Regions from separate parts of the Homo sapiens genome. Here region 2 is linked to region 1. The links come from fine-mapping of genetic effects on gene expression. A gene starts in region 1. The other region holds a variant in brackets. All regions are shown on one strand. Distances are from middle to middle.

What was found. PIP is the estimated chance that this variant, and not a neighbour inherited with it, causes the effect.
Region 2: its variant is fine-mapped to the expression of KHDRBS2 in transverse colon (GTEx, PIP 0.96).

The regions. Positions count from the first base shown.
Region 1 is chr6:62,275,619-62,291,263 of GRCh38, reverse strand. It overlaps KHDRBS2 (KH RNA binding domain containing, signal transduction associated 2), which reads left to right and starts at 5,039. Exons shown (of 9, transcript NM_152688.4): 1 at 5,039-5,406. The coding sequence starts at 5,316. RefSeq lists a silencer at 5,090-5,179.
Region 2 is chr6:61,960,568-61,976,212 of GRCh38, reverse strand. All of the region lies in intron 4 of KHDRBS2 (KH RNA binding domain containing, signal transduction associated 2), which reads left to right. Among named protein-coding and RNA genes, the nearest start is that of KHDRBS2, 320 kb to the left of the region's middle. The variant G/T (reference allele first, on the strand shown) is at 6,797.

The DNA of each region.
Region 1 (15,645 bases):
TTATTATCATTCTCTTAAAATGCCTGGCAATTGCTTTGTACGAACTATTTTATACAGTAGATTTCATAATGATTGTTATATGCGTGGTAATGTCTTTAAATGTGAGAGACCAGAATGACAAAAACTTATACCAAACAAGTGTCTGTTGTAATATAAAAACTTGAATGGGATGGTATTCTCTTAAAATACTATTTCAATATTAATAGTTTTCTAATTTTTTAATTAACCTCCAAATTAAATTGAAATTTAATCCATGCTTCCTTTTTTGTATTATTCATGATATAAAACAATTGCTTATACATCTGCCTGTCTGGCAAAAGTTTTAACGTACTTTATTATCATTTTTATTAAATCGTCTCCTAGCCTTCATATTTTTATTGCATACTGAATACAACAGAGATTAGATCTTCATTTGATGTGTAAGAAAAATATATTTTACTGATGTGATTTTTACCTTAACATATTGATCTCCAGAAATAATCCATACTTGAGCTACAATTCAAGGATTTAATTTTAAGAATATAGTAAATAGCTTTCACCTTGGAACAACAGCCCCATTCCCATTTCCTCTAATGAAGTACTGCTCCTCAGCTGCTATGAGTGCCACCCAAAATGTGGCAGTGCAACAATTGTTCATGGAGATACAAGGACATCAACTCTGTTAGTTTTTCAAACACAGATAATTTAAACCTCAGAAATAGTTTCTCTGGGCTAAGCCACATTAGAATTAAGAACAGTTTCTTCCTTGGCCTTCCTTCCTTCCTCCCACTTGTGAGGATTCAGAACAGCAGTGTTCTAACACAGTAGCAGACCCTCAACAAATGTCAATAATTTTCTTTCTGTCTCTATTCTGTTGTTCTTTAATTATATATTTGTATCAGTTTAAATATAATATGCTATTAAATAACTAGAATGCTTTCTAATTAGAAAACACACACACACACACACACACACACACAAGCTTTAAGTGGTGAATATTTATGTGGTACTATGATATATTATCATATAGCATAAATTTTATCTTTGAGCATATTACATATTAGAAATTTCTTACTACACATGCAATTACCACTATTGGTCATCAGCAGAGCCAAGTCCTCATTTCCTTGTCTTTTCTTACAATCCTAAAGTATAACATAGAAGTTCTAAAAGAAACTGGAACTGATTTCACTTGTGTAGTTAGTGAAATTCAAAGAAATTAAGATATTAAAATAGCATCTTTTATATAATAAGTTCTGTTGGGCTCTACAGTAAATATAAGTGGGCCAGTCCTTTATTATAGTTTATTATACTCTGTTCTAGGCACCAAGGCATTAGATTGCTAAAAGAATATTAACACCATCATTCTCCATTATCATTATGTAAATTATTGGGCCAGGACAATTTTGGAAACATAGGGTTCTTATTGTGAGTTGGTTTTACTGAATCCTTTGAGTAACTAGTCAAGAGTTAGTTAATCCTTGGAGTAACTAGTCAAGAGTAGCTAATGTGGTATCCATAAAGTTAATAAGAACTCTGGAAGCAACAGAAACTGTGCTCTACTTGATAATGCAGGCTGGGTATTTTTTTATTAGTTTGCAAGGATTAGTCTGATTAAATGCCCTTTAGCCTGACCTTTCTTACAAGGGTGTGTGAAAATATTGAATATACAGTTTGTGCTTTAACCACAGAACATATTCTATGGTGCATGACTTATTCATCCTTCAAAACCAAATGTGGTTGGGGCAAAATTTTCTATAATATCCCATTTTAAAAATAATGTTAAAGTTACTAGAACTCCATTAAAAATGTTTTGGGGCTAGAAGTCATGTTTAAAATAAGATAAATCTTTACTTAAGTTAGGCAAATCAATTCAGTGGTGATTTAGGTTATTCATATCATTAGAAGAGGTGGGTTAAACAGCAGTTATAATTTATTCAAGGGTAGACACAAAATATTCTATATTCAACAATCATTTTTTAAAGTTTTTCTGTTTACATTTATGTTTATAAAATGTTTGCATTTTCAAGGTTTCTCTGAGAATATTAAAGGATAATGTTGTACCTGTAAAATATTTGCATGTGAAATAAATGGAGAACATGCAGTAACACAGAGCCATCTATTGAAAACACGTGGATCTGATGCTGGATGAGTGTATATGTAGGGCCCTTGGTGTTTGCCTTTATTTAGTCATATTCTGTTTAAAAATAGGCAACATTTTGTGAGATAATTCTGAAGCATATTGATTTTTAAGGGTCAATATACTTATATATCTTTATTTTACAATGTCCATCATGTAGTAAGTACACAAACTTTTCTAAAGATTATGTTAGAGTTTATTTTCTTTTGATTTTTTAAGTTGCATAAATATATTGCTTTGTTAGAATACATTTTAGGCATTTGATGAGGGATTACCTGAAGAACTACAAATAATAAATCTTTAGTTTTGATAATAACTAGAAAATATTAACTTGACTGTATTTATAATGACTTGAAGACATTGTATAATAAAGTCAGCACTTGGACAGCTCGCTGTGGTATCTTCTTATTAATCCTGTAATCATGGAAAAGATGGCTGTGAATAATAAAGTAGTTGTTGTTGCTGGACATTATAAGAGTTACTACACCTTCTTCATTCATGAAACTGGGTTTCTGCACGTCTCCATCCTCACCATATGCTTTTAATGTCTTGATATGCTGCAAAGCAAAATGTTATTGTAATTGTAAAATATTTTGTTCTAATTTACATTTATTCGAAAACATTTACAGTTTTTTGCCTGTGGTTGGCATCGTATTCACCCTTTACTACCATAGCAAATCGTAGCCACCTCTTTTAAGTTTGAAGCATATTTTCCCTTTATATCCCTGTTGCAGACCAGGTGCAGGATGCATGACCCTTCAACTACTAAACATTCTGCACACAGATAAAATAGCAAGAACTTTCTGTATATATACTCAATTCTAAATAATAGCTCCTTTGAAAGTAACATAAGAATCAGAAAGAGATTAAGAAGCACATCCAGAAAGATACCAATACTTTATGGTCCCCTATTACACTTAGAATAAAATCCAAATAATTTTCATTCATCAAATCTTCAGTGTTTGTACACATCAATCCCCCCTCCCTTATTGATTCCATTCTTTCCCATATTACAGTAGTCACATTGACCTCAGTCAATTCCAAAAGACAGCACAGTTCTTTCCACCACAGGGCTTTTTCAGGGGCAAGTTCCCCTGCTTGGAATGTCTTTCTTTGCACATTGTACTCACTTGGTTCATTCTTTTCCATGAGTTTTCACCGTAAATATCAGCTGCTTATCGAGATTGTATGTTTACCCTAGTCAAAAATAAAGAAACTAATGTCTTCCCTTGTATTCTCTTTCTTAACTCCTTGGTTCATTCTTGACCTTTATTGCAGTCAACAATTACCATTCCTCTTGTATACTTGGTTTTATTTATCTTCTCCCATTAGAAAACATCTTTGTGATGACAAGGAATGAATGTGTATGTATCTTATTCACCAATGTTTCTCCAATTTTAAGTACTGTCCCTAGACTCTTTTCAGTATCCAATAAACATTTGTTGAATGCACACATGCACAAATAAATTAAATATATAACACACAGAAAGGTAGGTTGAAGCAGTATATTCTGGATATAAATGGTGCTAATATAGAATTGAATTTTAATCTCAACTTCAGCATTAACTAGACATGAGACGATTTCTCTGTTTTGCCTCAGTTTCCATATTTATACAAACAGAGAAAGTAATACTTGGCTGGCATTTTTCAGAGTGCTTCTGTGAGGACGTATTGAAATAATCAATGTGAGGCACGTTACGTTATTTAAACATTATACAAATAAAAGTTAATCTCCCGAATTTATCTAAAAATTAAAAGGAAAATATTTAAATACAGTAAGATAAGTTGGAAAAATTTCAGCACATTTTATTTGTAGCAAAGTTGGCCCTCATTCTTCCACACCAAAAATAATGGGGGAGAGAAGAATCAGGAAATGACTACTTATGAAACGAGAACCCAAGACTTGGGGAAAGATTGTTTCCTAGCGATTGAGGCATGCAAGTTACATTTTATAGCCGCATTGGTAAAAGAAGGATGGGCTTTGCCTCCACGCTTGGTGATATCATGAGGGTTTAACTTTCCTTTAAATAGAGGTGGGATAATACAAAGTAGCTCAGCAACAGTACCTGGTGAAAGAGACTGGCACATCTAAAACTAGGAGAAAGGGGAAAATTAGAGCAAACGTGGTTACCTATTTTCTAGTCTCTTCTTTCTTCTACATGTCTTCCCAATTCTTTCACAAACTGTGACTAATGAATCATATTGTTTTTGGTTTTTAAATTCAGCCCCTCCCAACCTCCCTTCCACAGATAGGGTCTGGGGAAAGGAGGCACGGATAGGTTACCAGAACTAATTCAATATCCTAATGATTGTACACCTCAATCATGTCTCTGCACAATATTTCTTCGAGCCGCTTTATTTGTTTATCAATGAACATCCTACTGCGTCCCTGAGATGTAGGTCATCGGAAATACCAGCTGCCGATCACATGCAGTCTTCATTGTATTTCCAGACCCAGTGCGCTGCTGATTCCTGCACAACTGGAGTGCGCCTGAGCTGTGTGAGGGAAAGGAGACACCTGTGCCTTAGGGACGCAGGTGAAGTCCCATCTACCTTCCTGAGACTTTCCCTGGCGCTTTTCCACCCTCTCGGGTGGCTCACTTCTCATCTCCATCTCCCCTGTCCACTTGTACTCAGACCTCTCTCTTTAACCTGCGCTTTTCCCGCGCTCTCTCTCCTCTGCGCCTTAGCTGAAGACACAGAGAACTCCACAAAACTGGGCATGCCTAATAGCCAGGGAAGGCTTGGGCGCAAGAAGAAAGCGTTTGCATCTTCCGAGCTCCCTTCCCCTCTGCAGCTGCCTCCTGCCAGTCAGGCCACCCGACTTGCGCTACCGCCCAATGAGAGCCCGCGGCCTTCTGCCAGCGCCCCGCCTCTCCTGGCACCACCACCAATGAGTGGTTGGCGGAGGTGGGCCGCGTCCTGTTCCCGCCTCTCCAGTTAAGGCCGCTGGTGTGAGCCGGGGCTCTGCGCGAGCGAGGGACGACGGAAGGGACGGGCAGGTGTGGGCGCGGGGCCACGCAGCCCGACGGCGGGAGTCGCAGGTGCTGGGTGCATGGGCCAGTGAGGACGCACAGAGATCCCTCGCCGCGCGGAGGAGGAGCAGCGCGGGAGCCAGGCGCTGCCCCAAGACCCTGCCTGCGTCCGAGCGAGCGGAACCTCGCGCTTCGCCCGGGGACAATCCGAAGTCCGCGCTATGGAAGAGGAGAAATATTTGCCTGAGCTGATGGCAGAGAAAGATAGCCTGGATCCATCTTTTGTGCATGCGTCGCGCCTTTTGGCAGAAGGTAGGACTTGCCCCCACAGATGGGCACAAACCGCCGGCTGCCTATCTCACCCGCGGCTTGATTAGGGGAGTGAAGTTGGGGAGGGACTCCTCTCCCCGCCTTCGCAGAAACTGTCCCCCTGAAGATGCTCGCCTTAGAGCTCGGGCGGACAGACCCCGTTCTTGGGGCGGACAGCAGTGCTCCTTCTCCACGTCTTAATTTGGAGAAGACCAAAGCTACGGAGATCTAATGGCAGTGGCGATGTGACCTGTTAGGATCATTGATAGAGAAACCATAAAGTGTATGTAACGCGGTCTACAGGGACATTTTCACTTCGCAGAGGGAAGGGAAAGCAGTTTGGAAGTAAATGGTGATCAATGTAGTGTTCTAAGAGCTTCGTAGCTACAGATCGGTATTTTTATTTTTATTTTTTGCTGCATTTAGGAAGTGATTTTTGATACCCTTTAATCAAAGTCTATCCTATGGAAAGTGTTAGAATTAACCTATGCATTAAACTATGCATGTTCTTATATGTATGTTAATGTGGTAAGTAAAGGCTAAAGTGCTTATACATTTATTTGAAGTGTGATGATTGGGTACTCTGTGAGATATTGGTCCCTGGGAACACTCTATAATTGATCAACTGTTTTACCAAGTGTGCATTTTCTTTTGTGTACCTGTAATGTTAAAGGGGATTTCATTCCTAGAGGAACACATATGTCTTGTTTTTTGCATTGCTTTGAAAGGTTTTTTTTTGAAAAAAGACACATGAACTTTATTAACCGAATTACTCCATTTATGTTATAATAATGCCATCTAAATACTAAAGACACCTATGGTATCTGTAGTTACTTACCCATGCCTTTTTAAAACATCTGCAGATTTTTTTTAGATGAATGCTTCATTAATAATGAATTGCTTCATCATCAAATTGGTTACAATGCAGTTTTGTAGCTAAGTTTGTTATGGACTTACATACAGCAAAAAACTAAAACGGATAACTTCCTCTACCCAAGCTCCTCAGTATTAAAAGATTTTTTTGAGACTTAGTTGTACCAAGGAAGAATAAATTCTGCTCCTCAATATATGATTTAAATAGGCATTAGCTATATTTTTTAATTTATGAATTGTTATTTATATTAACAATGAAGTGTAAGGTATTTTTCTATGTTTAAATACTAAACAATTAGGAAAAGATTTATATTCAAAACATGGAACATGTGAAATAACTAAACTGTTTTCAGGGAAAAAGCTAGTTTTATAGATAAGTGGGAAGGTGAAATACAATTATGCCTACTACTTTCTTGGTTACTGAATGAAAAAAAATATAAATTAAAGTGGAAAAGTAAAGTCAATAAAAACGAACTTTTTTTACTTTCCCAAAAAAGACAACTACATAAAAATAATAGCAAAATAATGTGTTAATAGATGTTTAAGATTGTTTGAAATGATTTAAAAGGCAAGTCTTACCAGTCTTCAGTATCTTTAATATATTTTGAATAGTCTTCAATATATTTTCCAGAATTTTCTTTATGTAGCTTATAATATGTCTTTAAAGTGAAAAAAAAGTTACAAATTGATCATTCTCTCTGACCCGCTAATTGGAGTTCTATTTGAGACAAGTGGCTCAAAGATTAATTCATCAGTCATTAATATGAGTTATTGTACTTGAAGACGGCCAAGCTAAATAAATGCATACAAGAAACTCTTAACAGAGTGCATAAGTATTTCTGTGGCTGGTAAAACAGTCAGAGAATGCACTTGGTTCCTTAACATTTTATCTTTCCTAGGAACTTGATTTCTTGATATAATACTTAGGAACATGTTCTGATGTACCTTGTAATTTGATTTTTTCCCAGCAGGGGGAAGCATGCCCTGCTTTTGTAAAGAATTAGAAGGAAAAGCTCCTAAATAGAGAAAAACATCTAAGTAAGAAACAAAGAGGTTACCCAAATTTCAGAGAAATCAGAATGAGGAAAAGAGAATGGAGGAGGTTATAATAATCTTGGAGTACCTAAAGAGTTATGCAAAAGGGTGCATAGGTTTTATATTAGCTCTCTGTACCTGGGGCTCTTTACATGTGCTAATTAAAGAGTGTAAGATGATTGTTCTTGGAATCTCAATAATCTTAATGTATATTTTATGGTATAGATCTTTCATTATCTTTCCAAAGGCCAGTTGCCAAGATGTCCACGCTTAGTTTCAGATCTCTATAGAAGAGTATGGTTGAGATTATTTTATTTCTCATACCTGAGAATGCACTGATTGAAGGGAGTGGCTGTAAATAAACCTGACATAGATATTCATTTGGAAAGAAGGTGCAAAGTACATTTCAGTCAGTACTGTGCAGACAGTGTCAAGCCTGAGTGAGTAGTAAAAATGATACAGATGATTCAGTTCTTCAGAATGATTTTCCGGAAGCTAATATATATAAAGGCAGTAGTATAAACCAATGAGATTTCACAATGATTTATTTTGCATTTTGATTGGTGATACAGGCAAATCAGTGCTCAATTGACAGTGCTTCATGTAGAATTGAAGGCTGTGGGGTTGAAAGTACTAGTTGGATGTTTATTTGGGGTTTTTGGGGGGTCCATTGTAGTTTGTTTTATTTCACTTGTTTGTGCTGTGTGTTTTCAATGAGAATGATTTCAGTTGATTGTTACTCAGAAGAGTTCTTGAATAATGTAGTTTGAAGTTTGTTTATAATATGCTTAAATAATTAAAATAATGTTCATCCTGCGATTATAATGTTGTTTAGTTATCCACTTGTTATGGTAGGTGCTTTTGAATATGATAAAACAGCAAACTCAGGACTATCCTTAAAGTTCTACTCAGTGTCTGAATTTGGTTGCCAGATGAAATTACATAAGTTTATTTATATCTTTTCTGCTTCTGGGAAGTGCATTAAACTGTGAATCTAGATACCTAGATTTGAATTCCACTTTAACCTCAACTGAATCTGGGTAAGCTTTCTTTCCCTGGGCCCAGTTTCCTTGTCTCTCAAATTAAGGAGTTGGACTAAGTGATGTATATGTTTTTTTGCAATTCTAATTAAGTCTCAGGCTACTGATGATACAACGAAGTGATGTTTGTATATTCGGAACAAAAATTCAATGGCTGCACATTTTTGAAACTTTTTTCATTCTTTCCTAGTTTAATGATTAATAATATATTTATGGCACTAAAATGTAATTTGAGGCATATACTTTATTTTGGGTACTGGGGACAGATTTATGTTCTTAAGTCTATTGAACTACTATTAATGTTTGAGGCCAAAAATGTATATACATGAAAATATTATCTGGAAATATTCTGTGTCTGCTGACAGACATAGATCTGTTCAGATTTATATATTCAGTTATGGTGATTCCATACTCCTAGGAGCATTATAAATTTTTGTCCAATTAAGAGAGGTTTGGGGAAGATTTTCTAGCCTGAAATCTTTGCAAGCACTGAAATAATCATAACCATTTTGGTTGACTCATTATATGACGATGTCAAATATTGCCAAATATTCCAGCAGTTCGAATGGTTTTCAAAAAACTGTAGGCGCTATTTTCAAACTTTAGTAAAAAGTTTGACCTGCCATCTAGACTTGGCCTTTATTTCTGCAGATATAAATGAGATCTTAAAAATATTAAGAAAAGAGGGATTAATACTTACCACACATGCAAACTTGTGAGTTAACTACATTTAGATTATCAATAAGAACCATTTTTTAGTTAGATCGTGTTTCTTAAATATTTTTCATAAAGCTTGATAAGTTTTTTAATTAAGGAAAGTTATTAGTGTCATGTCTAAAACAGCTTCTGGTTAAAAAATAGTGTTCCTGTGACTCTTTAAAGTGACTTTTCTTTTGATTAACGTAATCACCTTTTTCTCCCAATAGACTTGGGATAATCTTATGTTTCTTAAATACAAAACAAACATGGGCAAAAAATTAAATTCAAGTTATCTTTGATCTTCAATTAAGACAATTTATGATATAGTGGAAAATTTCTACTTTGACAAGAAAAACACTTGGGAGTGATTATTGACACTTCTACCTACTGGGAAATAAAGGATGTGTCATTTTTTTTCCACCTCTCTGATACTCAGTTTCTTCATCTATATAACAGGAAAAGTGATACCTACCAGGCAGGGTTCTTTTAAGATGAAAAAACAAAAACAAAAACAAACAAACAAAAAACAACTTCTGCTTGTGATGCTTGTGATAACATAAGCCGTATTTTAAAAATTTATTTTATTTTATTTTTGAGACAGAGCCTTGCGCTGTTGCCCAGGTTAGAGTGAAGTGGTGCGATTTTGGCTCACTGCAACCTCTGCCTCCTGGGTTCAAGCAATTCTCCTGCCTCAGCCTCCCAAGTAGCTGGGATTACAGGTGCGTGCCACCACACCCGGCTAATTTTTGTATTTTTAGTAGAGACTGGATTTCACCATGTTGGCCAGGCTGGTCTCAAACTCCGAATTTTGTGATTGACCTGCCTCATCCTCCCAAAGTGCTAGGATTACAGGCATGAACCACTGTGCCCGGCCAATAATTTTTATGTGTATAACAAAAATATAAGCAGAAATTAAACAAACATAACATGATGATGCACCTCAATTTGAGAAAATAAGTAAAATAAACACTGCCTTACTTTAGATTACTGCTGAGTTACATTTGAACTCATAAAGCAAATTATGAAATAAATTACCTTATGAAAAAGGATTAGATTGAGGGTTTTAAAAATATCATGTTTAGTAAATGATCACTTGTCAGTCTTTAACCATGGGCTTGATTAGCCCTGGTCCTATTTATTTCAAGAGTAATTTCAGACCTATTCAGGCTTCATCTTAAACCCACATGTTCTTCACTCTCAGCAGGTGATTTCATCATCTGTTTTATTGGAGGAAATGGATATCTCTCTTCTGCTATTCCTCAACCTCCTACCACCTAAAAACTTCCATAGCCATCGTCATTGTCTTTCATTCCCAGAAGACCAAATGTTTCTTTTCTTCAGGGTTGACTTGCCATCCATATCCTTGACCCAAATGCTCTTCATCTCTGGACTCATTCTGTAGTTAAATCCTTTATTTGTATCTCCTACTCTTTCTCCCGATCGACTCTTTCTTTATAGCAGCTGTCAACATGATTCAATGTGAATAATTTGAAGAAATAGAATACTTCTTTCACTTGCCACAAATATTGGAAAATAATCTCTCTTGACATTTGTCCTTCCTTGTTTCCTTCAAACTTCTGATAATACTAGTATATACTAGCTGCCTCACTTTCTTAATTTACCTTTTTAGAATTATTCGGTTTGGCTTCTGTCTTCATCACTGTCCTGAAACTGATGACCCTAGTGACAGAATAATCTCATATTGCCAAATTGAGTAAATTTTTTCTGACCCCTTATCAAGTCTCTTGGCTGCACTTTCCACTGTTGACCTTCTTCTGATTTCTTTCCATCTTCCTTGTCTTCTGGGCACTATATTCTACTGGTTTTACTTCCTTTTTTGACCGTTTCTTGCCCTCATCATCCTTCATTTCCCTCCTTCCCACACCAACACACACAATGCTGTCACAGTAATTCATTTAAAGTCTCACCATGTCACACTTCTTAATAATTTCCATTGCCTGCAAGGCGTAGTCCATACCCCTTGACGTTCTTATAATATGCTTACCTCTCCAGAAGCATCTCTTCAGCCTTTCTGCTTAATTTCTCTCAGGTATACCAAACTGCTTATAATTCACTCTCTACACTCCCTTGACATTCCCATACCTATTCACAGAAAGCTAGATATTTTCCCCTCATTCCCATAACGAACGCCTCTAGATCACTATTCAAACTGTTATTTTAGAATGATCAGGTTGTGCCTGTCTCTCTCACTAGAGAAACAGCTCCTCTCTGTCTCCTCTTGAGGAGCAGAACCAAGTCTTTTTCATCACTATATTAGCAGCACTTTTCACAGTGCCTGGTATGTGATGGTGCCAGGTAGAGGCCAAACAGGCTTTTCTCCATCAGATTTGAGAACCAGCCCCCTGTTGGCCCCTCTGCTACCTCTTCCGCATGTGAATAACACTTGCTCTTCTCTCTGTCCTCTCCTATCTCTAAGGTGTTGCACATGCTAAGACCTCACTTTAGAATGCCCTTTCTAGCTTCTCTCCATGATTATAATTTATCTTCATCCAATAAAACTGAGTACTGCTATTCCTTCTTCTAGTAAGCCTTTCATAATGGCTTCTCATCTAATTCATTATAAATTAAGTGCACTTCTGGTTTTATTTTCAACCTATCCACCACTACTACATTGCAACATGCAATTCTTTTTGATCTTGGTTGTCTCCCCCTCTAAGCTTGAGGGCCATACTATGACTTCTGTCTTTGAATTTTTAATGCTTGCCTTCAGTCTTATATGTAGAAGGCCTCAATAAATGTTTCTTAACTGAATGATGCTGACCTCATATCTTCCTTTTTCTCCTACCATGTGTTTAGAAGATATCTCCAGAAACAATTTTTCAGTAATTCTGTCACTTACAATGATAATACTAATTCAGTCATATTTTATCTTTGCATAATTCAAAACCTCAGGAGGCCACTTTGAAAGTTTCCATTTGTTTTTAAGTCAATTTTGAAAAATTATTCATATGCAGGAAGTTGGAAAGATAGTACAGGGAAGTCCTTCTTTACTCTGTGAGGTATCTGAGAATCTGCCCATTTGTTTCTTTGTTGTTTGGATTGAGGCTTTGTGTGTGTCTGCTTTTTATTTATTTTTATTTATTTATTTATTTATTTTTTGAGATGGAGTCTGGCTCTGTCACCCAGGCTGGAGTGCAGTGGCACAATCTCAGCTCACTGCAAGCTCCGCCTCCCGGGTTCAGGCCATTCTCCTGTCTCAGCCTCCTGAGTAGCTGGGACTACAGGCACCCGCCACCACGCCTGGCTAATTTTTTGTATTTTTAGTAGAGACGGGGTTTCACCGTGTTAACCAGGATGGTCTCAATCTCCTGACCTCGTGATCCGCCCACCTCGGCCTCCCAAAGTGCTGGGATTACAGACGTGAGCCACCACGCCTGGCCGTGTCTGCCTTTAATACTTCTGAGTTGCTGGCTTTTCTAGCACTCAGTCTGGCACATACGCGGCACAAAGAAAATCTAAGAAAACCATTGAAATGTCATTCCCGAATCTTGTGGTACTGAGACAATTGGCCTCCTTTTTTCCACTTTCTAGAAAAGAAAGTCTTCTTATGTTTATCTGTAATGTCCCATCCGCATTCATTTATGTGTTTTAATTTATATTTTTATGAAATTTTCTTTTGATTGACTATTAGGCCTTGTACATTAATATTAATATTTCATTGACTAGTTATATAGGAATGAGCATGACCACGATAAATTCATCTAGATAATGGACACAGTAGTATTCTCTATATTTATCTGATTTTAAGGTTTTTTTATGGCCTGGTACCTGAGAATGGGAACATAACTGATCATTATTCTCAGTTTCTCTTTATGTATACAGTCTATAGTGAAGCTGTTTGTTCCCACAGCAGCTGTACAAGGGGAGGAAGTGAGGTTTGGAGGTAGTTTTTAGAAACCCCTGGAAATAACTGTGTAGTATCATCAGCTTTCCTTTTGCACTTATTTGAGCACTGAATTTGATCTTTCTTTTTGGTTTGGCTATATTATGAGAAATATATCTTCATTGGAATTATATTCTGGCATCAGTTTGATTTTTTAAAGCTATAAACCGTGTAATATTTAATATATTTCATAGATCAAAATTTGGTACTATTCCCCACAAACTGCTGAATTCCAATAAAATAAACTGAATTTGGAAATTTTTTTAGAGGTGGAATAACCACTAATAGATGATATTCTACATTAATGTTAGCAAATATCCATATTATATGGCTTCCTCATCTTCTCAAGTGCAGAGTTCTGTAGTGATTGCATCTTTTATTTGCCAAATACTTGTGAGGTCATGGCCAAGCATCCTCTTGCTCCATTGTTATTAACTTTTTTGGAGGAAAGAAGTCATTTTTAGCACATCCTCCATTTGACTCATAACAGTACTTCCAAAAAGATTTTGCAGTATAGAGAGATAATAAACAATCATAAAAGCATTAGGCTATTTACCTTATATTTTAGTTATAGTTTGGAGGATTAATTCCATCAGACTAGTACTCTACTGCATTTGACTACACAATCACATATGCCCTTGAATGTGTGTTGTTAAAAACTGCATATGGGCCGGGCACAGTGGCTCACGCTTGTAATCCCAGCACTTTGGGAGGCCGAGGCAGGTGGATCACAAGGTCAGGAGATCGAGGCCATCCTGCCTAACACGGTGAAACCCCATCTCTACTAAAAATACAAAAAAATTAGCCAGGCGTGGTGGCGGGCGCCTGTAGTCCCAGCTACTCGGGAGGCTGAGGCAGGAGAATGGTGTGAACCCGGGAGGTGGAGGTTGCAGTGAGCCGAGATCACGCCACTGCACTCCAGCTTGGGTGACAGAGCAAGACTCCGTCTCAAAAACAAAACAAAACAAAACAAAAACAACAGAAAAACCCAAAAAACTGCATATGATATGTGCTATTAATAAATGAAGTATCAAATGTTTAATTTATGGGGTTTATAATCTATAGGGGATTCAACTACATATATAGACAGATATTTATATATATACATATATGATATAAATAAGTATATGGAAGGTCTGATAGATTTTACAGAAATTTTAGAGACCACTGATATAGGAATTCAGAGAAAGTCATAACTTCTGTTGTTTATGGTAATGAGAGATTTATCATTATTACCATTATCATCATCTCAACATTTATTGAGTTTACTCTTTGCCAGACACTGTACTAGACGATGCATTACCACAAGTAATCTACCCACCAACCTTATTGTGTAGTTATTAGCATTAGTTTTACAAATTAAACAAATTAAGGCTTAGATAAATTAATTTATATCAGGTCTCACAGCAAAGAAATTGTAAAGTTGAAACCCAGGCCTTTTCACCTAGATGCCACGTGTAACCATTACACCACATTGTCTCCTGTGATAGAGACCCAATGTTAGGCTTTGAAAGAATGTCAGCTATTAGTATGCACATTTTATCTAGAAGATCAATGTTGTTGTTGCCATTAACTTCTAAAATATGTTTCTGAATACAAATATTGGATGAATTATTATATGATATCATAAAATATAAGTATAGCTTATAAAAGTCAAATAAATTTATGAATGGGGGAATTTACCTTAGTATAGAATTGAATTAAGGATCATCAAGACAGCCTACTACATTTTCTGAATGACTTACATTGACTGCTTCTTAGAGAGCTTAGTGATGTGGTGGCAGAGCAGAGGGAACATTTCAGACTTCTTTGGACCCAAAAAGTGATTGGATAATTTTGTGTGGTTTGCTGAGGCATTTTTTTCCCCACATTTTTTAGAGAACTGCTTACATTTGCTGAATTCTTCTAGAAGCAAAGAACAACTGTAGGCCCTCTCTTGGGTCTTGAGGCAGTCAGGGTTTTGTTTAACATTTAGAAGTGAGCAAATTTTACGTTTGATCAGAAACAGAAGACAGTATAGCTTGATTTAAATGTTATCTGTATGTTCTGAGGTATTAGAATTTAATAACTTTGAAACAGATTGGCTGGTGTTATTATACTGTTATCAGAAATGCCACGATCGATGTCTGTTTCCTTTAAAACATTAAAGATTAGATTTTACTCTTCTTACAGAAAACCAGAATAAGTGTGTTTTCTCTAGAGCGTAGATATTTTTAGCAGGTTCATAGCGTTGTATGCTAGATAATGATGAGCCCTGACTGCAACTCAGGAGAGGGAGCTTCTGTGATAGAAACACAATAAAGAGGCTGAATGAGAAGAAATTTGTTTAATTTTGAGAAGAAGAAAGGGATGACTCAAGTAATGGCTGCTTTTTTTGAACATATACAGTGGCTTAGGTCTTTATATTCTGAGAGGCAGCTAATATTGTCCCTATTTTATAGGAAAAGATAAAAAGGAAGATTACAAGGTAGTACAATCAATTTGGATTTTTTAAAAAGCAATAAATCAGAGGTTAGGCAAATGTCCAATAAAAGTGTGAAAGAGTGTCAAAAAGCAGCCATTATACATTGAAACATCAAACAATATTAAAGAACATAACTTGTTTAAGGGAATAGCAAAATCTTGCTTTGATAAACTTTTAGAAGAGTGAACTAACTAGGTTACTTTAGAAATTGTTGTTTCCTTTAAAAT
Region 2 (15,645 bases), 320 kb after region 1:
GAATGGCTGCCTATAGGCATGAGGAGTGGTGCAGGGGATAAAATAGCTATCCAGGTAAAATTTGGGGGCTAATACCCCACAGTCAAGATGCACCATATATACAGACTCAGATGAAGAATGAAAATATTACCATGGCTGGTGTGACCTGGCCATGCCTACCTCTATGATTTCATCTTGTATGTCTAACTTCTTATTCATTGCACTTCAGACATGCTGGTTTTTGTTCATTCAACAGTCCAGGCTCACTGCTCATTAAGCACCTTTGAAGATTATTCTCCAAAGTGTTGACATGGCTGTTTCCTTAGCATCCAGCTGTCAGCTTAAAGGTTAGCTTTGTAGAAAACTCTTCCCCAACCACACAATCTAAAGTAGCTGCCCCCTTTACCTTCTATCATGCAGTCTTACTATATTTTGAACGTAGTATCACTAACCACTCTATTTAACATTATAATTCATTGTTCCATTATACCTTAGTCCTTTTCACTTATTTTCCGCATAGCTCCTATCACCTTCAGATGTTTTATATCTCTCTGTGTGTGTGTGTGTGTGTGTGTGTGTGCATCTTGCTTATCTTTGATTTCTGTGCTAGAATATGAATGTCATGAGGGCTATTCTGATATGTCTCTCAATGTTTTATTAGTAAATTTTCCCATCAATGAAAGTCATAAATTTATCCCATTTGCCTTGCTTGCATCAGCAGAAAGCAAAGAATGGGAGAACCGCAAGGGGCAAAAATGAACTGCCAATTTTTTTTATTCTATGAAATGACTTGGTGATCTAAGGTTCTTTTGATATTTTATATTAAAGCCCACAGAAATGCTAAAGTTTCTATACATTAACATTTGCAAACATTGTAGATGAAGAATTCTAGGCAGTAAGAGACATGCTAGAACAACAAAGAAGGCTTATATAGGGCAAGACTCTGGAATTCCACTGACATCTTGTTCTTCTGCGAAAGGGATTAATTTTCCATGGTAGGACTTTTTACCTTCTTCTACCTCTTGTATGTTATCCAGAATTTACTCAACCTGCTGTATGTCCAAGGGTTGTAATTGTCTAAGATAACCAACTTTAGAACATAGAACTCCTTGTGAGCTGTCTGAATGCTTTAGGATGCTGGTAAACAACCCACTTTCAGCATTTTAAGTGGATTGCTGAAGACAAAAGAATTATTATTGCCTTGGGGAAAATTTCCAGCCTGTTGGTCTCCATTCACACACTGTAGTCTTTTATTTATTTATTTATTTATTTATTTATTTATTTATTTATTTATTTATTTTTTAAGATGGAGTCTTGCTATGTCGCCCAGGCTGGAATGCAATGGAACGATCTCGGCTCACTGCAACCTCCACCTCCTGGGTTCAAGCGATTCTCCTGCCTCAGCCTCCCGAGTAGCTGAGATTACAGGCACATGTTACCATGCCCAGCTAATTTTTGTATTTTTAGTAGAGATGAGGTTTCACCACATTGGTCAGGCTGGTCTCGAAATCTTGACCTCATGATCCACCCGCCTCAGCCTCCCAAAGTGCTGGGATTACAGATGTGAGCCACCACACCCAGACACACTATAGTCTTTTCAAAACAAATAGAGTGTCAAGGGTCAATAAAACACCTTTAATTTGAACATGGCTAATTTTAAATCTCTAGTACTTTTGGGAGGTGAAGTATTAAAGTTTTCATTATATTTGATTATTTATCTTAAAAATACAGGTTAGAATTGTAAAATAAATTTTTTGATGAGTAACGAGAAACAGGATATAAAATCCTAAACTAATATATGCTTCAATAATGTTGATGCACTCCTCTCTTTATATTCTATAAAGAGGTAAGCAAGTATTGCCACTATTGTATTTTATACTATTTCTTTCTTTCATAGTTCAGACACCAGGATTGCCACATATGGTTGTGAGAGTTGTGTCTTGTGCAACTCTAGGGGGTAACATTTACACCATAGTTTGTGAATAGTACTACCTAGGACCATGAATACAACTTTCCTATTTCTAATCCTTCTCAGTATGTTACTTCAAAATGATAACACTGTTTTATTTTCCTAAATTGGCTTATTCTCACCTTCAATTCAATTGAATTAATAAGTTTTACTAATGCTTAATTATTAACTCATGACTGAAACATAGTACATTGTCTCATAATTAGAAATTATGAAGTGTTGCATGAAATTCTGCTCATTGTGTGTTTATATATTCTTTCATTAAAAAGATGAAAGGAGGAGTTTTTGCACAGATAATTTGATTAGGTCATGGATAACAAATAGATTGCTTTTTTACATCTTCCAATAACTATCCTATTGACATAGTTAAGAGATTGTGATTCTCTTTTCTACCTTGGCCCATCATGGCCCAGAATCTTCCCAACACAGCATGCTGCACAGCGTTACAATATTAGCAGAGTTGACAGAACTTGAAAAATTTTGCCATGCCAGGCTTAAGTCTTTAATGATTATCACTAGAGGTCTATATAATTTAAAGGAAAGATATATATATAACTTATATACTTATGTAAACGTGTGTGTGTATGTGTGTAACTGTTACTAGACTCATATATAAGATTTTAAGTCAATTTAAGAGAGAAAAAATATAGATCATTCCAGTTTCTTTCTTTCCTGCATTAGTTGGATGTGTGTCTTAGTGATAGCTGTGATTCTTGAAATGGGGGAATTAGGGTGTATTATCTCATTTCAAGTTTGAGATACTGGTAACACATCTGGGAAACCTACCAAGAGCCTGACTATGGAGGAAAAGTAAAACCTTTTTCTTCTTTATGGCAAAAGCAAATGGAGGATATTCTTGCCTCCCTTCTTCAAACACTGTAATCCTAGTTCTGAAATTGGAAAATGTCACTGATTACTAACAGCAATCATACTGGTAAGTAAGTAAATGTAAGGAAAAATAGAAAAGGGAAGCAGAATTTTCAGTCTAGTAGATAGATCTAAACTTTCATACACTAAAAAAAAGTTATAAAGTTTTAGAAGATGATAAATATAAAAATGTGTCCCTGAAATTGATGCTATAATTTGAGAAAAAGTGAAAATTTGATCAGTCTATTTTTTATTTTTCTTTTTGAGACAGAGTCTCACTCTCTCACCCAGGCTGGAATGCAGTGGTGTGATCTCAGCTCACTGCAACCTTCTCCTCCCAGGTTCAAGTGATTCTCCTGCCTTAGCTGGGATTACAGGTGCATGCCACCACACACAGCTTATTTCTGTATTTTTAGTAGAGATGGGCTTTTGCCATGTGGGCTAGTCTGGTCTTGAACTCCTGACCTCAGATGACCCACCAGCCTCAGCCTCCTAAAATGCTGGGATGACAGGCATCAGCCGCCACACCTGGCTGATCAGTCTTTTATGCAGGTGAATATATAGGGAAAACAATGTATTCAACTAAACCCCACCAGCCAGCAAAAGTAACTGATAAATGGCAAGACCTAAAAGGTGAGAGATGGCAGATACATTTTGACTGGCTGACGGCAGGAGTTCAACATTTATAGCAATAATATCCTACAAGCAAGAGAATGATTGGTTACAGAATTTAAAAACAAAGTTCAATGCAGAGAGGGAAGCAGAATCCATAATCCAGATTTCATTCCTTCATTGTTGTGGTTGTTAAAATGTTGTCAAGAGTTCCCTCATACTGCTATCTCAAAACCAATTAATTCCCTTTTCTTTCTTGTAACTAACCATATTCTAATAGTGTGGTAGCTAATGGCAGTAAGCACAAAGCCACATGTATTTATGTAATTATTAGTTGCTCAGAAATATTTCCTGTATTGCTATAGTGCTATAGCACTATGATAATAGTCTGATTTTCTTGGAAGACATCTGTAATCATCTATGGAGTATTTCTTCTTATCTGATAAGTTGTAATAGATAATACAGATCTATTAGAACAAAACTAAAATTCTTATTAGTTCTTAGAATAGAATAATAGTAAGAATCATGATTATTATTATTGAAATCCAGGACTACTGTATCATTGCTAATTGATTGACATAACTTGGAAGACAGATAAAAGAAGCAGTTGGCATAATAATCATATGTCAACACTGACCTGCAAATAGCTTTTAGATGAATGTGACTCAAAAAGACTCATGATTACTGGAGATTGAGCAGAAAAGGTGCCCAGTAATCAGAATCTGTTAAGTAAGGTTTATAATTTTTATCTGAGATAAGAATTGGAAATAGGTGAATAGATCATACTAATTAACACAACAAATATTTCTGGACACCAAATATATGCCAGGCACAATTCTAGCAATGTATGGTACATGAGCCACTGACCTAGTAGAATTTAAGAACCAGAAAAACTATTTCTAAAATGTAAAAGATAAAGATTATAAAGACTTATTTGAGAGCTACTGGAAATGGGAAACCAGATTGGATAGTAATGTGTTTAAGGAAGGATGGTGGCAACAATAGAGCAGGAAACACTGATCAAACAGAAAGTGATATTCCTAGGGTCAACGAAAATCAATTGCTGGCAAAGACCACCACCATACAAACAAGGGTAATTTATCTACTGAGACAGAGACAAAGAGAGAAAGTGGAAGGGGGAGAGGAAGAGAGAGAGAAAGAGAGTTCGATTAGCCTCTTGAAAATATTGATGACCCACAGCCAAAGATTCTATTTCACAGTGAACATTTTAAAATACACCAAGAAACACCTCCAGAGTATAGCATATTTTGAAACTGATTTTTTAACAAAATTATGTATTTCTGAAATGTATCTTCAACTTCTAGCAACTAATTCTTACTTTTTAAAGAGCTAAATAACATAAAACATTTTTTTTGAATTGCCCTTCCTTGATTAAGTGATCTCATTTTACTACTTTGAAACTCAGCAAGCTACAATGAAAAATGTATTGATTCTTCCAGATGATATTTAAACTAGATAGCCAGGAAACTTCAGAGAATCCCTATTGTACCAAAAATATAACTTCTATCTCATCTTTAGTATTTTTGTTGTTATTGTTGTTCCCTTCTCATTCACTCCACGCCAGTCTTTCTACGTAGTGTATGTAAGGATGCATATATAACAATGCCTTAAAATACAAGTACAAATGGCTTACTGGATGGTCTGTACTCAATGTGATACAAATAGGACTTGGCTTTATTTTTCTTAACAACTGTCATTCTCCCCTTCTTATTCTTAATTTCAGCTTGAACAAATAACATAGTTTTCTACTCCTTCTTCTATAAGAAGAGTCTCAATTTAGGCATTTGAGGTTTTAAGAAGCCCACTTATTTCCAATTTATAATTGCCATTTCAAATCTAATACAAAACTCTTCTCCTCCCACAGGCTTAGAACAAATTACAGCTTGGGGAGTAGCAGTGGGAAGAGGGCATGTTATACTCATTCATCTCCTTGTACAGTCTCCAGCTTTTAGTGCTCCAAGAGCTTTGTGAAAAGGTCATGAAGAATGAGACTGGTAGGTGATGTGAACATAGAGCAAGAGAGGCGTAACACTGGTCCTGTAATAATCTAGTTGGCCTTGTTGGTTTGAGTCTTAATTTCAAATATTTTCCCCTGTTGGGGTATGTGAATGATAGACCAGTAGAACTGTTGCAAATCCTCAAATGACTTTCTTCCTTTTAGCTCAGTGGACTCTTCGATGTGTTCAGAGTTCTCACAGTGAAGTGTTCTCTCTCAGTAATCTCTAAATGCTAGGTTACCATCTTCCTGCATCCAGTGTTGCATGTGAGCTTTCTTCTGTGTACTTAACTTGGTCGTTTTGAATGAGAGCTGTAGTTCACCTTATACTTAGAATTCAAGCATTTTACCAAGATATGCTCAGGTGTTGCTCTTTTCTCATCAGCCCATACTTGAAATAAAATGATGGGATTTTTTTTTTAAATGCATTTGAAAGAGTCTGAAAATATGCAGTTTTTTTTTAACTAATCAGCTCTTTACTTTATTCATGCAAACAAGAAACTTTTCTTTAAATGACCCAATCAAGTAACATGGGAGTTCAATAATGAATTATTGATATATGATGATGGTGGTAAGAGCACCATTTTAAATTAATCAGTCAACAAGATTGCATGATATTATATATAGATACACACATATATAGAGAGAAGACAATCACTTATGTTATTTCTATCTACATAAATGAGTCAATTGTAACTTTCCAAAATCTGTTTCCTTTTATATTGCTACTATTTCTCAGATGTCTTTCATTCCCTTTCTTCGTTTTCTCTGTTCTGAACTTTAGAATTTTAGGGCTTGACTTCTATAATATGGAAACTTTAGTTGCTCTCTTATACCAAGAATAATAACATCTTAAAATTTTAAGAGATTTTATATGTTTTTTTTTGAAACACACCTCTCATTTAGAATTCTACGGCCTCCAACTAGTATTTATCTTTATTTAAGTCAGAATAAAATTTGAATACACAAATTCATATAATAATTTCACCCAATTTCACTGGTCTTGTCTGTTATCCATAGCATACTGAAGGGATTGAAAATGCCATCTGATGAAATTATTGCATTTTTCCAACATAAATTACATTTTAATCCTCTTCTGTTCTTTTCTTTTTATTCCTAATCTACTTCTTATTTGAGGAATTTGAAGCTTTAGAAAGACACTTTATAAGCCAGGATAGGTTTCAGAATCAGAGGAAAATGATTTTATAAGTGAAAAAAGAAATGTTTTACAAATAAAGGGTATATGAGTACTCTCCTTAAACCCATACATAGACAAGTTATAGTTAGGATAAGATTTCAGTTAAAACTAGTCCTCATGCAAAGTACAGACATCTTTTTAGACCAGACACATT[G/T]TTACAACAAAAGAAACCCACTGCATAAAACATATTTTATAATATTCTTTGTTTAGAGAGTGTACTGAATTGTTATGATTAACAATCTGCTAGTAACTGTGCATGTTAGTGATACAAGGAGAATAACCTTTTCTCTAGAACCTAGATGATGTCCTCACCAAAATGTGGCAAAACACAGGTCACTTCTTATAAGAATTACATTATCAACCTTAAGTTCTATGAGCAACAATAATCTGTTATCCAAAAATTCTTTATTTAGATAAACTTGCTACCCTTGCATTAAGCCCAGTTCACTTTATTACAGAAAAGATCTTATATGTAAAAGCTTTTATCTCAATACCTATGTGGATTCATTTCTATAATTATAGAACTGGAAGGGATACTTAAGCTCAAAACAATTAACAGGTTTCTAAGGCAATATAAATATTAATGTTTGGAAGAAAATACTTGAAATTCATTATTTTTTTCTTTCTTTTATTTTTGTCAATCCTCTAAAGAATTCTCAGAAGCCACAGAGCTCCAAAGAGGGTTATTTGAAAACCACAGGTGGAATCTAAGCCTCATTTTACCAGTGAGGATACTAAAGGCCAGCATGGTTACTTAAACTACCCGAGGTCAGGCAACAAAAAAGGGCCTGATCAGATGCCTCCTCATCAAGGATATTATCAAAATATGCAGGCCCAGATGCTGTAAGTTTTCTCATGCTGTATTGAAGGGCACTAAATAAGTAACTTGCAGGTGGCATGGTTTGTGTAATTAGTATTAGGCTTCTCTGTATTTAGAGAATCATATAATGCCTATTTATGGTTACATAGACAACTCTGGACTTATTACCATTCAGCAAGCACTTGCCAATATTGCTTTTAGTGGTAACACAGGTGCAATTTTTCCTGCACATTCTTAGATACTCATTAATTCAATAATATATTCATAAGGCTGTTCTATTTGGGGACCTCTTGTTTTCACTTTCTTATTTTCATGGCAGAAACATATTACACCCATTCGTGAAATCACTTCACGGTTGTTTTAAACATAGGCAAGGAGTATGTGACAGAACTGTGGTAGGTGTAGGGGCATGAACATATCATATGTTGGAATTATGCATTGCCAAACATTTTCAGGAATACTCTCATATCTAGAAGCAAGATGATGCCTTTTTACATTATAATGTGGTCATTCTCACAGTAAGAATGGTTAATAGTGCAATGTACTGAAATATATTTAGAAACTAGACTTCAGCAGCAAAAGAGGGACTGGCATGGTAATGTGTATATATCATTGGTTATTCTCAGGAATAAAAGAAAATACTATTTAAATTACAGTAACATTCTAAAGCTTAAAGATCCTCTTCTCTGAGTAATAAAGTTATAGATTTAACTACTGTGCCATGCACTGTGAGGAGTGCAGAGAGAGGGGGTATATTTTCAGTATGTGTGTGTGTGCATGTGTGTGTGTGTGTATATATATATATATATATATATATACGTGTGTGTATGCATGTGTATATATATATGTGTGTGTGTGTGTATGTTTGTGTGTATGTGTGTGTATGTGTGTATGTATGTATGTATGTATTGAGAGAGAGAGAAAAGGCCAGAGAGAGAGAGAGAAGGGAGATTCTCATGGAAATTTTAAGAGCAGGCAAAATAATAATGTAGAGCCTCACAGAGAACTGTGAGTCCTAGACAGTGTAGGAAATCTAATAAATAACTTCAACATTAAAATAATCCACCTCTCTCTGTGTGCTTATTCACTTTCAGCCTCTTCCCAACCGACTTGCTTACCTCCACTCTGCTTTCTTGACTTCAGAGCTTCTACTCACTCCTGGTTTGGGACTCCTCTGAATCTGGGTTTGCTATAATAGCTCTTGCCCTCTCCTTTCCCCACTGACCCTTTATAACTCTCCTTTCAGCTACAGCCCACCCTGCTGCTTCTTATTTTCATTCATATCTATCTATATCTATATCAATCTATCAATCTATCCATCTGTCTATCTATCTGTCTATCTATCTATCATCTATCTTCACAGCATACAGCTTGTAAAATGGCTTACATTTCCAAGCACTTTCAAATAAATGACTGTCTTTTCTCTCAAATTTCACAGATATACTATGATTTACTGTTATAAAGTATTTCACTTTTTTACTTTGTTTTATTTCTTTTAAGTCTGAAATTTCAGTGGGCTCATTTATCCTTTTTTTTTTTTTTTTTTGTAAACATAGTGGAAAGAAATCCTACTCCAATCTAATCATTTAAACATGGCACACAATTGTAATTTCATGTGTCTTGTTATATTTGTATGACTTTAAATGAACAAGATAATTTTAAAATTATAAAGGAAACTACCATAATTCTATTTTTTTAAATTTATCTCAGTTAAAAATATACATAATTTTTGTAGATCTCAGTGTATAAAACTATCCCATTCATTTATTAAACATAATTAGGAATTTTAAAATAAATCGACTGAATGTTTTTAGTTTAAATTAGGCTCATTTTTAGGATTATAAATATATGAATGAATGAGCATTTCTGACTATTGTACTGTTTAAGGAGAGGTTTTCTCTAAGTGCATGATAGGGAGAGGCAGAAAAAAAGAAGGAAAATAAAAAGAAATGTCTGAGCCAGGAAGCTAACCTGATCCTAGTGGTTTTATGGAAGCTTAAGACTCTCAAAACCCGTATTCCAAAAAATAATAATAACAACAATAAAGTTACAGTTAGAAGTTAGAATAGTTTTGGGGTGCTGTGGAATGCCATGTGACTAGTGACAGCATGAAGAATTGGGCTGCTGGATTTTGGCTTCTTAAGATATTGTGTAATTTGTATTTTCCGTGGTCAAGTAGATCACTGATCACTTAGAGATCACTTTCAAAATGAGAAGAAACCTCTGGATTCTCTGCCCAGAAAAATGCACATGCAAATTATCATGTCCCCTGGACAACAGAGGTCCAGGGAATTCACATTCATGGATCAAAGATGAGGGAGACTTACACTAGAAGCATCACAGTCATAGTATGGGAGAAAGAAATATTAAAATGCATAACTAAAATTGCATTAAAATGCTAAATTTATTTCATATTAGAAAATTATATGATCTATATTGAAAAGTACAGATCATTTTGCCTCAAACTACCCGAAGATAGTTGTAATAGAAAAGTACATTTTCTTACAGTTATCTTCTTAAATGAATGTTTTATCTTACGATGAGATAATTTTACTACCAAACTGTAATTCATTACCTTTCAGTGTAATTCTCATTTTCAGATTTCATTTTAAGCGTAAAACAAATTCTATGTCAATTATAGTACAGTTAGAATGTATTGCATCCAGAGATTTATTTTCCCCTGATATCAATCATAACAGTTGGTCTGCAGGAGCAAGAATGAGAGGAGGTACACTATGAATAATAGGAGGCTTTTCTGTCTATTGCTGATTGACCCTAAACTTCTTATCTAAGTAGTAAAATCAGGAAATGTAGCTCATTATAAAGAATATACACAAAGGTGAGGAAACTTGACTGTGGAATGTCTATTATATTTTAAATTAACTTATTGCAGTCACTCAAACGTCTCCTTCCAATTTAAGTGACTTTCTAAACATTATTCATCAAAATATCAGTACTCCCATTGCTCTCTACTCTCCTCTGCAAGAAAATGCCTTAACTTATCCTCTAAAGTAGGACAACTTTACCATAGTCCAGAATCTCCATATTTATACATTATATATATTATTTATTTATGATTCTTTGGAAATTAAAAATAACTGTACAATATTATAACAAAATAAATACTAACATATATTGGTAACCAGAGTGACTCTTCTTAGAATATCAGATTTTTCACTACCTGACCCTCAACCAATCTGGAAAATATCTACCCTCTCTTGCTTTTTAATCCCCATTTGCCTCCACTGATCATGCAGTTTTCAGAGATAAAAAGAAGAAACTGTAGGGAATAATGTTAACCCGAAAACTACACGTTTCTCCAAACCCAACTTGACTTTTGTCATCTGGTAAATACTTAGAGATCAGGAATGAGCAGGATGCCTAATATCTGGTCTCCTTCCCAGTCCTAGCGGTTGACCATACCCACAGCAGTCTAGACTGGGTCCTCTTGCCTCTTTCCAAGACTTTGAAGCTTCCAGACCCATAAAGGCTATGATTGATTTGTAAGTAGGGGGAGCAGATGTTTCAAGTGCCCTGAAATTGGCCCCTGGCACATGGCAAACCATAAGCCCTCCCAGAGCAGAGTGGAAACTCTCTGGACTCTTGTCACTGGAATTTAGCATTTCCCTTTTAATTTTTACATCTCAGCCCTAGAAAGCCAACATCAAACTCCTCTTTTCCAAAAAGCAACAGAACTTCGTTTACATTCACCCAAGTGCAAAGATTAACAAATTCTGTGCAACATACATGAATATTCATGAATATACAAGTATACTGAAATATAAAGTGAAACATTAAAATATCTAAATATTTCTGGGTATACAGATGTTTACCCATGTGTAGAACAAAATGTACAGATATTTGACTAAAGTATCTTTTATCCTGTTGGTAGACTGTATTTTTGCCTAAACACCTGTGTGGAAATCTGTTTAAGTGCTTTTCCTTTGAAGCACATTTCTGCCACTGCTGTTTGGCTCATTCATCTGTTATTTATGTTACAACTCAAATGTCAGAATCACTTGAAATCTAGACCAAGACAATGATTCCTCAATTTATTTTTTTAGATAACTCAGTATCTGTAAATCACATTAGCTAATTAAGTTCATCAAGTGTTACTTTAAAATAATTCAAAAATCAAATCACAAGCAATAACAGGCTTTTAATTTCAAGGAGAAAAAAGCTTATTTTTTAGAAATAGTCAATTTGCTTTCATAAATTAAAAATTCGATGTGTAAATACACTAGTGGACATCTAATATGCTGGGGAGACATATAAGTTGACAGTGAATATGCTATTTGCAAATGTGTCTCTCTTCTCTCCCTAATGAAATTCAGCTCCCTGAAGTCAGAAATCAAAGCTGGATTATACTTTATAAGCCCCATGCTGCCTGATGCGATTGCTTGTGCCGTCATTCTCAATAAATATTGATTGATGAACATAGCCTCTTACAATGTGAACAGGCTAAAAATGTTTAACTGAATTTTTTCATTAGCCAGAAATTCTTCTACAACATATATATGTGTGGGCTCCTAAAAAGCAGCATTACTCCTCTGTAGCACCAATTGATACAACAAACTGTAAGTGATAAATCTTGGCTTCATGCTCGATTTTTTTCTGTAAGTGAACTTGTGGTAACGAGCCGCAGTGCAAGGAGGTCCGATATTTTGTACTGTGATATATTCAGAGGAAAAGAAGTACATGTCTTTAGATGACATTACCCTTCATAAAGTCAACTGGAAAACAGAATTAAAACTGGTCATTCCTTTGGGAACAAGATGAGAATCTTAAAAGTTGTCTTTTTGTTATGGAAAAGCTCCTTTAAACTTTAGGTGTAAAGGAAGAAACAATATTTTCCTCAGCTTAATTTTTAATATTTGGTAAGAAATTATTCTAATTTATAGATCACAGAAGTTATCTCCTTTAGTTATCGAGAAGAAACCTTTCACTTGGATTTATCAGGCCCACGTACATGATTGCACATCAAAATGTGAGGGATGAGGAGAAACCCTTGTAAAATCCTGCCGGCTATGTGTCCCAATTAGACTGTATTAGGGAACTTTCCTTAATTTAGATTGGGTTAGGACATCATTTCCCAAAATATTATTTGGAACACTTATTTCACAGAGTGTTCTATTGGAAAAGAAAGAGTGAGAGGGCCCCTGTACTCAATTAAGTTTACAAAATGCTTTCTTCAGTGTTCCCCTTTCATAGAGTCACATCCCTAATTACCATTTAAAGACTCTGAGGAGTGCTGCAGTGAAGAAGCTAAACTTTTTCAATCCAATGTTTGCATATTTATTTGGCCAAGTAGTCCTTGTTCAGGAAGTTATCTAATTTCATCTCAACATACTTTAGAGATTGTTATATTAGAGCAATATTTCAGCTTTTGTAAAGTGAGTTAGTTCTTAAAACAGTAGCATTTCCCTCATTCTGAAATTTCTGGATCCTCAGATATTTTCTTAGACTGCTAAAATGTAATTGCTCATGTTTTCATATCATATTCCATATCATTAAATACCATAATTTATAATTACATTAAACCAGGAGTTTATCTCATGTTTAGAACATAGCCTCAGGTAACAAAACTGATATTGGAATATTATTTGCTTTGCATATATTTGTGATGGTACCCTTACTCCCTGCAATCATGTTTACTGCCATGTTTTATTTCACTATTAAATAGCAACCAGCTTATGTGGTGTTTGGTAGTGAATAAGTCTGCTGCTGTCAGTGTGAGAAATAAAAACAGAATGGCCAGCACAAATATTTAGCATTGAGACTCATTTCCTTTTAATCATACATGCTCACCAACAAAGACCTATTCACACATTTACTATCACATAAAATGTAAATGTGTTTCCCTTTTTATTAACTGAAAATCTGAGCTTCCAGAGCCGAAATCCCACATTGATAGTTGATGGAACAAAGGTTCTAAATCTGATTTGTATAAAATTCACATGATATTTTATTGTCACCCCTAGGAGTGGCCTGGCCTAGACTGTAGTCATGACTATATAATTTTTGTCAGAAAGCGAAGATGAAAATTGATAATGAAAATGATCATTTTTGACAGTTATCCTCCAGATTTATTTATCCTAATTTATTGATTGTAAGCATCTTCTAACTATAAAAAGAACTCCCCAAATTTTACAAGTTTAATGTTGAAAAAGTTAGTGGATCTTCTACAGTGTAATAGTTGTACTTTGTATTAGTTGAAAGGTCACATCCAAATTTAGTATTAAAAAAAATAACTTTGCAAAACTTTGACCCCTCCCACACATAAAAAATACAATCACTTAGAGTGTGCAGCCCATAGATTGGGAACTACTGAAATGGAGCACAGATCTACAGGCCACACATACTATTTTGTTCGTGTGTTAGAGCAGCAAGTTTTTGAGAATATTATTGGTTGTGCCCACAGTTATTGCTTCATCACAAGCTGATCAAGAGAAGTCATGTTTCTTTCTACTGAAGCAGGAGCCTAGGGAGACCAGCTTTTTAGAACCTAACCATGAACTTTCAAAGCATATCATTATACTTTTGATTAGCAACACAATAGAACTGCCATTCAACTTCTGCCAGAGATTATAAACCCACTCAGCTGCCCAATTTCTATCAAAGCTTACTTGTGAGAAATAGTGTTTATTGAAGATTGCCTGTAAGATATACTTGCCTTTAGAGCATCAATTCATTCATGCATTACCTTTCCTAGAGTATTTTTCATGGAACACAGGTTCTGGTTGGTTCTCTATTATATGTGTATATATATATATCTCCACATAAAATATGCTATTGTATTTATTATATGGTACCTACATAGTCTATTTTAAACACAGCTGCCAGAATGATCCCGTTTAAACTGTAATCCAGATCATGTCAGTCCTGTTCTTAAAGTCCAGCACTGGCTCTCTGCTTCATGCTGAGTGAAAGCTATAGAATTTATAATGGCCTTCAAGGCCCTGTATGATTTTGCCCACCCAGCAACTTCTCTTTGACCTCATGTGCCGTGGTCTTCCCTTTTTTCCCTCTGGTCACTCTAACCTTTTCACTGTACCCATGCGCAAGTCAGGCTTGCTCTCTCCTTAGGGTCTTTGAGCGAACCCTCAGTGTGAAAGCCTCCCCACAAGTCTCCATTTCAGCACTTCAGCCTTTTCAAATCTTTGTTCAAATGTCATTCTTTCAAATGAGGCCTTTCCAACAACCCTACTTAAAACATCTTGCTCCCCTTGCCAGCACTCCTCATTCCCCTTGCCCTGTAGTACTGTCTCTTTCCTTCCTTCCTTCCTTCCTCCATCTCTTTTTTTCTCTTTCTTTCTTTCTCTCTCTCTCTTCCTTCTTTCTCTTTTCTTTCTTTCTTTTTCTTTCTTCCCTTCTTTCCTTCTTTCACACTCATCACCTTCTAAACCACCTTACAAGAAGCTTAATTATTGCTGTTGTTTATTATCTATTACATTCTCCCCTACTAGAATGTACAATCCATTTTTTTATTGGATGTTTTATTCATTGACTATCATTAGAGATAAGAAAAATCCCTGGCAATAGTAAGCACTCAGTGAATAATTGTTGGCTTAATCAACGAATGAAAGTTTATTGTAAAGCTATTGTTGCAACATAGGATATATAATGCTCACTTTCTTGGGATCTCATAAGGAAAATTTCTCTCAAGTTTCTCTTTATCCATACAAGTCTCACTTCTAAGCTGTGGACTAACTTCAGTCTGGGCCAGGGAAAAAAGGCAGGGAAGAAAGTGATAAACTGAACACTACTTCAATTGTATTATAAATTCTGATTTCTACTCCCCAGTCTGCATGATGCTCTTTACTTTTTAGTGTCTTCAAATAACTGCTTCATGCACTCAGTGGGTAAAACATTGCAGAGTGTGCTCATTTCATCTTACCCTGAACGAGATACCTCATTGGAATTCTTCTACTCTTTACCTCATGAAGATTAAGCCTTTAATCTTAAAATTTGTTCTCAAATGTACATAATGTCTATCAAAAATAAATTTATGTATAGGAAGAAAAATTGATCATTTTCATGCAGGAAATTTGTTAAAATGCTTAGAATAATTTATCTGTAACTGAATTTCGAGTTTTGTTAATGGAGGCATTCTGCTTTTTGTTGAAATGTTACAAATGTGGACTTTTGTGCTTGTGCTATAAAACCCATCCCTATAAGCTAGT